2 linked regions of the Homo sapiens genome follow. The protein of the gene in region 2 interacts with the protein of the main gene of each other region in a pairwise test. Each region holds a gene or a part of one and is shown on either strand. Other genes may lie near its edges.

The links. The genes of interacting proteins can lie anywhere in the genome.
Region 1: the proteins of BEGAIN (region 2) and RIBC2 interact in a two-hybrid assay, tested with the Homo sapiens proteins (one large-scale study listed by BioGRID and IntAct).

What each region holds. Positions count from the first base shown.
Region 1 is NC_000022.11:45,412,173-45,415,921, reverse strand, and holds the start of RIBC2 (RIB43A-like with coiled-coils protein 2), read right to left. Parts: upstream 2,230-3,749; 5' UTR 2,036-2,229; coding exon 1,907-2,035; intron 1,845-1,906; exon of another isoform or gene 1,696-1,844; intron 1,601-1,695; coding exon 1,519-1,600; intron 1-1,518. Other genes in the region: SMC1B (structural maintenance of chromosomes protein 1B), read left to right, coding at 2,355-2,463. UniProt on the Homo sapiens protein: Microtubule inner protein (MIP) part of the dynein-decorated doublet microtubules (DMTs) in cilia axoneme, which is required for motile cilia beating.
Region 2 is NC_000014.9:100,577,377-100,581,025, forward strand, and holds part of BEGAIN (brain-enriched guanylate kinase-associated protein), read right to left. Parts: intron 1-3,649. UniProt on the Homo sapiens protein: May sustain the structure of the postsynaptic density (PSD).

The DNA.
Region 1 (3,749 bases), on a different chromosome or scaffold from region 2:
TCGAGACCAGCCTGGCCAACATGGTGAAACCTCGTCTCTACTAAAAATACAAAAATCAGCCCAGCATGGTGGTGTGCACCTGTAATCCCAGCTACTCGGGAAGCTGAGACAGGAGAATTGCTTGAACCCAGGAGGCGGAGGTTGCGGTGAGCTGAGATCGCGCCACAGCTCTCCAGCCTGGAAGACAGAGCAAGACTCCATCTCAAAAGAAAATAGAAAAAAAAGCATGGGAATGATAAACACTTCTGAGGAGAAAGGAGGGGAAAATTAAGAGGTAGGGGGCAGGGCAGTGTTGTTATATATATATATATATATATACACATATATAAAAAACACAATTCTCAAAAAACACTGAAGATATCTGAAGCCAATCTGGCAAAATGTTAACATCTAGTCTGATGGTGGGTACATATGTACCTGTCACATTGTTTTTGTAAGATTGAATTACCTCATAACTAAAAATATTAATAAAAAAGATAAAATGTTTAGAACATACAGAACAGTATAAAGGAGAAAATAAAGTTTACTCATAATTCTATCCCTCCAACATTACCCTGCTAACATTTTGGCATATTTCCTCTCTTCTTCTTCTGAGCATATTTTAAAATATTTTAAAAACATAACAGCCCATTGTATGTACAATTTTGTATCCTGCTTTTTTTTCTATTATAAAAATCTTTATGGTGTTTAAAAACACTGAAATTTCTTTTTTTTTTTTTTTTCAATTTATTTTTTGTAGAGATGGGGTCTCGCTTTGTTGCCCAGGCAAGTCTGGAGCTCCTGGTCTCAAGTGATCCTCTAGTTTTAGCCTCTCAAAGTGTGAAATTTCAACAATTGTTGAAATTGTTGGACACGATAGGGGAAAATAAGTTGTATTTGAAGTGGAATAATAATACCTTGAATAACAGTATTCAAGGTACTTGAATACTATGATTTGAATCATGTCTGTCTCTGAGTCAGCTTGAGGGTGTGAGCCCGGACATATGTGTTGTCTGGTATAAACAGCTGTCCTTCATAGACGGTCTTAAACTTTTGAGCAGAGCAAGTGAGTGTGTGTGTGTGTCTTTCTGTGTTTAAGGCTTTTCCTATCCAGTTTTTTAAGAAAATGAAGGAAAACATACATATACCCTTAAAATCTATTTCTTATAATCCACATTCGAATTCAATAGCTGTTTTTAAGAGAAGAATCAGTGCATTAAGTTAACTGGGCACAAGAAATTGTGAAATTTAAAAGGAAGAAGAGTGTGAAAATGACAACTTTTTATATATGTGAAGAAAGGAGGGCTGGGTACCGTGGCTCATGCCTGTAGTTCCAGCACTTTGGGAGACTGACGTGGGAGGATCACTTGCACGCAGGAGTTCCAGACCAGCCTGGGCAACATAGTGAGACCCTATCTCTATTAAATAAAAAAAATAAAAAATAAAAAAAAAAAGGCGGGGCAGGGGGACGGTGGGGAAGACTGGAGTCTAAAGCCACACAATCCTAAACCAATAGATAAGCATTCAGGAAATGCTCACCAAAGGTTTCATGTCTAGCTTTTTCAGTAGCTTCTTTTATCTTCTGGTCATGAACTTGAACATCCCAGGCTTCAGTGTCTCCCTATAAATGGAAAAACAGAGGAGAAGGGTTAGAGCCAGATCATTTTATTCAGTAATAACAATCCTACTTATTATTATTTTTAATCTCTGCCCCACTGTAAACGAGTTGTAGAAAATCTGGCTCAGGGGAGGAGAACCGTTGGTGACTCCAGGCGAGCTCGAGAGGGAGCATTATTGGCCCTGCAGGAGGCCGTTTGCTGCCTCCTGGCTCAGATGTTTCATCCTAGAACTCATCTCCTTTCCCCCTCCACGCAGCCCCTCGCCCGCATCTGCCGCTCTAACCCCGTCCCGGCCCCTGCCCTTTCACCCCAATTATCCTGTTTCTGGCGTTGAAGACCCGCTTCTGCCTGCACAGCTCCGCGTGCCTCCTCTTTGCCAGGTTGGCGTCCTGCCGCAAGTCCCTGGGCAGCGCCACCGCCATGGTCTGGGAACCCATGGAAAGCCTAAGGGGTTTTTAGAACACGCAGGATCAGGAGAACAGGCGACGAAAATAAGGAAGCTGTAGCGCAGGCAAGGTCGGCTCCTTCGGTCGGGCAGGGGAAAGACAAGCCTTTAGCGCAGTTTTCCGTCGGGCTCCCAGTGACGCCGCAGAGGTACAGACGCTCCCGCTCTCTCGGAAATGTCAACAACTCGTTGCTAAGGAACGGCTCCGCGCTTGCCGCGTCTCGCTCTCTTCTCGCGACACTTGGCGAATCCCTTCCCGCGCTTTTTCCGCGGGCGCTTGATAACGCGGGTGAGGCGTGGAGGGCGGCGCCATGGCCCACCTGGAGCTGCTGCTTGTGGAAAATTTCAAGTCGTGGCGGGGCCGCCAGGTCATTGGCCCCTTCCGGAGGTTCACCTGCATCATCGGCCCCAACGGCTCTGGTAACTGAGCAGCTCAGGGCGCCACCGGAGCGCCTCCGCCGTCCCAGGCGTCCAGGCCACACGTGGCCTGTGGGGTGTGGGCGTCTGCCGCGGGCGCCTGGCCGGCCTTCCCCTTCCAGTCCCGGAGCCTGACCGCGACCGGATCCCGGCCTGGCCCTGGCCCAGCCCCTGCCCATCACCCCACCTCAGCCCCGGTCCTCGCCGTCCACCTCAGGGGTCCCGACCCTTGTCCCTCCGCCCCACCTCGGAGGTCCTGACCCTTCCACTCGGCCCCGCCTCGGGCCCCGCTCTCGCCCTCCACCTCCTGGCTCCCGACCCTCCTCCGACACCCTGAGGGACCCCACCCCACCTCAGCTCCGGCCCTCGCCCTTCATCTCAGGGGCTCCCAACCCTCGCCCCCCACCCTGGGGGTCCTGACGCTTCCTCTCCGCCCCGGTCCCGCCCTGGGCCCTGTTCTCTGCCCTCACTCCTGCTTCGGGGACTGCTCTTGCCCTTGGCCCTGGTCACTCGCGTCCCTTTTCCCTTCTCATCCGAAGTTGAAGTGAGAGGGAGCTGTCGAGGAGGTAATGGGTTCCAAGCAGCCAGAACCACCATTTGGATCCAAGGGAGCTTTGACCCAGGAATGTAGTGATGATGACCCAGTTTACTGAGCTTTTCCTAAGTTCCTGGCGACACCGTCTTTGGTTAGCCATGGCGCATGGCTGCTCTCCCCATTTTATAGTTGGGGAAACTGAGGTCTGGAGAGGCCAGAGGACCTGCGGAGGTCTCTACTAATAATACCAAAATTAGCTGGGTGTGGTGGCACACGCCTGTAATCCCAACTACTCTGGAGGCTGAGGCGGGAGAATCGCTTGAACCTGGGAGGTGGAAGTTGCAGTGAGCCAAGGACACGCCATTGCACTCCAGCCTGGCAACACAGTGCGACTCTCGTCTCAAAAAAAAAAAAAAAAAAAAAAAAAAGGCTGGGCGCGGTGGCTCACACCTGTAATTCCAGCACTTTAGGAGGCCGAGGCGGGTGGATCATGAGATCAGGAGTTCGAGACCAGCCTGACCAACATGGTGAAGCCCTGTCTCTACTAAAAATACAAAAATTAATCGGGTGTGGTGACATGCACCTGTAATCCCGGCTACTGAGGAGGCTGAGGCAGGAGAATCGCTTGAACCCGGGAGGCAGAGGTTGCAGTGAGCCAAGATAGCACCACCGCACTCCAGCCTGGGTAACAAGAGCGAGACTTCGACTCTAAAATAAAATAAAATAAGATAAATATAAAATAAAATTGGCCGGG
Region 2 (3,649 bases):
ACTAGTTCCCACGGCCTGGCCTGGCCCCACTCTGCTTGCAGCCTCAGTGGCCGCCTCCGAAGAAAGCTGGGAGCTCAGGGCTGGGTCCTTCTCCCCTGGGGCTGCAGCTCTTGTAAGGGCCTCCTGGGCTAGACCTTGGCCTCGATCCACTGCAGAGGGCTCTGGGCTGCGGCCTCTGGGCACCCTGAAGGCCTCCAGGGTCCCAGGGTCCAGAACCCGCACAGTGACCTCATCCAGGAACCTGGAGAAGGGCAGTCTGGCCTCCCGCCAGCGGCCCAGGCGTGCGAGGGAGCCAGTGACAGCCCGGCTGCCTGTGTTCAGGGACTCTGGGGAGGAAGGCTGGGCTGGCGACACCCGGGCCATCTCCTGGCTGGACCGAGCTGCCCAGCGGTGGCAAGATGCTTTGCCCTTGGGGTTCCGACCTTGGCTGGGGCTTGGCATGTGGCTTCGAAGGTCCTGTCTGTGAGCTTCCTTGATGGGGGCTTCTGTCCCGGGCTCCAGGAGGGAGCTGTAGCCGTCCTGCCTGGGACAGGTAGGGTTAGAGCCCCGTGCCTGGGAGCTGGCCCCTGAGAGCATCCTCCTGAGTCAGTCCAAGGTCCGGGCTCCCCAAGAGCGCCGTCACCCACTCCTCTCCTCCCATGGGGCTGGGATCCCTGTGCCCTCTTGGGGGCTGTGCCTCCCGTCCTCACAGGCCAGGGCTGCCTGCCAGATGCCCGCCTGCCCATTGATCCAGTGGCAGGGCCTCTTGGCCTCCCACCCCCAAATCGATTCTCACTAAATGAGAGCTGAGCTTCAGGGCTTAGAAAGTGCTAGAGAGGGGAAGGTCGTGTCCTGGGCTCTGCCTGGGGAGGAGCCCTCCCTGAGTGAGCTCCCATGGTGCACAGGGCCCTAGGCTGGGCCTCCCCCTCTCCTACTCTCACATCTCCTCTGCCAGGTGCGGTGCAGGGTGCAGGGGCACAGAGGACAGGCAGTGGACAGATGGCCACGGTGGCCACCATGATGGCTTGAGTGCTGGGCCTGAAGCAGGGCAAACTGGAACTGCAGCAAACCAGCAAATGGAAGGGGGTGGCAGAGGCTGCGGGCAGCCCACAGTCCTCCCATGCATCCTTATTACAGAGCCTTCATTTTCTTTTGAGATACAGGGTAGTCGGCTAAAAGACCACCTTTCCCAGGCTCCTATAAGCCAGGCCAGGAGGTAGCCAATGAACTATAAACAGAAGTTGGGTGTGACTGCTGGCAGAACTCTGCAGAAAAGATCAGACAGCCAGCCTGTGTCTTTTTCCCATTCACCAACCTCCTGCTTCTTCTCTAGAACATGGAAGTGATGGCTGGAGCTGTGGCAGCCATTTTGCACCATGAGACAAACTTGTGGCAGCAGCCATATATAAAAGATGGAGGAGCAGAAAGACAAAAGGAATCCGGATATCTCATGACCACTGAATCATCATCACACCAGCCTTGCATCATCTGCCTCTGGTACTTTTTTTTTTTTTTTTTTTTCTGAGATGGAGTTTCGCTCTTGTTGCCCAGGCTGGATTACAATGGCATGATCTCGGCTCACTGCAACTTCCGCTCCCAGATTCAAGCAATTCTCCTGCCTCAGCTTCCAAAGTAGTTGAGACTACAGGCGCCTGCTACCATGCCTGGCTAATTTTTGTATTTTTTGTAGACACAGAGTTTCACCATGTTGGTCAGGCTAGTCTCGAACTCCTGACCTCAGGTGATCCGCCTGCCTTGGCCTCCCAAAGTGCTGGGATTATAGGCGTGAGCCACTGTGCCTGGCCTGCTTCTGGTACTTCTTTAACTTGAAAGAAAAATAACCTCTTGTCTTTAAGCTATGGTTATTTCATCTCTGTTGGTAGCAGCTATGTGCAATTCTCCAATGATATACAGGGTTAGGGTGAGAAAAAGCAGTTGTTAACGCTATGAGCAAGAGCCTTTGGCACATGGAGGCCTCGGGTGTAGTTAGGTGGGAGTGGGGCCAGGGAGATAAACTTAGAGAAGGGTTAGAGCCAGACCTGGACCCTCCATCATTTGTGTGAAGGGAGACACGCCTGCCCACTGCACCCCACACAGAGATCCTTCCTAGGATGCGGCTTTAGGCTGCTAGACTGAAGGAAGGCTTTCCAGGGGTGGCAGCCCAGGCCCTTGGCCTGGTGGGCATTACCACCATCGCTGGCCTGGCCTCTGGTGCTGCTTGGAGCGAGGCTGAGGCCCTGTGTGGCATGCTCATAGCTGTACATCTGGGCTCTGTCTGGATGCCTCCATCAGGTGCTGAGGACCCCTGCTTTTCTGAGCTCTGCCGGACACCTCTCTGAATGCCCAAAGCGCCCCTGACTGAGTCTGCAAAACTCAGTGCGTGGCCTCACCATGGCCTCAGCCACCCAAGACAGGAACAGGGGCCGCTTCAACTCTTTCCTTCCCTCTTCCCTGTCCCCGCCCCTGGCTGCCAGGCCCTGGAGATTCAGCCTTTCTCAGGCCTGGCCACCTCCCTGCATCCTCACCATCACTTTGCTGGTACCAGACACTACCATGTCTCACTTGGACATCTGCGATCATCCCTTCCTGTGCCTCCTGAGTCGATGCGGATCCAGCCCGGCCTATCCCACAAACACGGCGAGTGTGACCTTTTAAAATCACAGACCAGGCCGGGTGCGGTGGCTCACGCCTGGAATCCCAGCACTTTGGGAGGCCGAGGCAGGCGGATCACCTGAGGTCAGGAGTTCGAGACTAGCCTAACCAACATGGTGAAACCCCATCTCTACTAAAAATACAAAAATTAGCTGGGTGTGGTGGCGCCTGCCTGTAGTCCCAGCCTTGGGAGGCTGAAGCAGAAGAATCACTTGAACCCGGGAGGCAGAGGTTGCAGTGAGCTGAGATCACACCACTGCACTCCAGCCTGGGTGACAGGGCAAGACTCTATCTAAAAAATAAACACATAAATAAAGAAAAAATAAATAAAATCACAGGCCAGGTGACTAGACAACGTCACACCTTCATATACACTGCAAGGCCCTGACAATTGCTGGTGTCTTCTCTCTCTCTCTGCTACCCTCCCGCCCCGTGCTCCCCGCTGCCAAGGAACGTCTCTCAGGTCCTGAATGTGCTAAGCTCTATCTGACCTCAGGGCCTTTGCACTTGCTTTCCCTCTGCCAGAAACACTCTCACTCTCTCCCTTCCCCTCCTTCCCATCATCTAATTCCCAGCTGACCTTCAGGGTCCCAGTTTCACAGCCTGTCCCCCTCTGTCCCTCAGATTAGATCAAGTACCCCTGCGGCAGCCCCTTATAGCCCTGGCCCCCAGCTGTAACTAATGTTTGCAATTATTTATTATCTGTGTGTGTGTCCCCCCGTAGAATGTAACTTCCACTGTATCCCAGCTCTTTGCATAGGGCCTGGCACATAGCAGGTGCTCAATGCGTAGTTCTTGAATGACTGACTGAATGAATGGCATAGCAGGTTCAGGCTGTCAGTTCACAAACATCCCCAGCCTGGTGTGGGCCTACTGTGACTGGAAACAGGATGAGAATATAGGGGAGGGATCTCAGGCTCTCGGGAGGCCACAGTGTCCTCCTCCCACCCTATGGTCCCCGACAGTCGCCCCTCTACACCCGGACAGCCCTTCCCCAGCAGCAGCCGTTCAGCCCCTG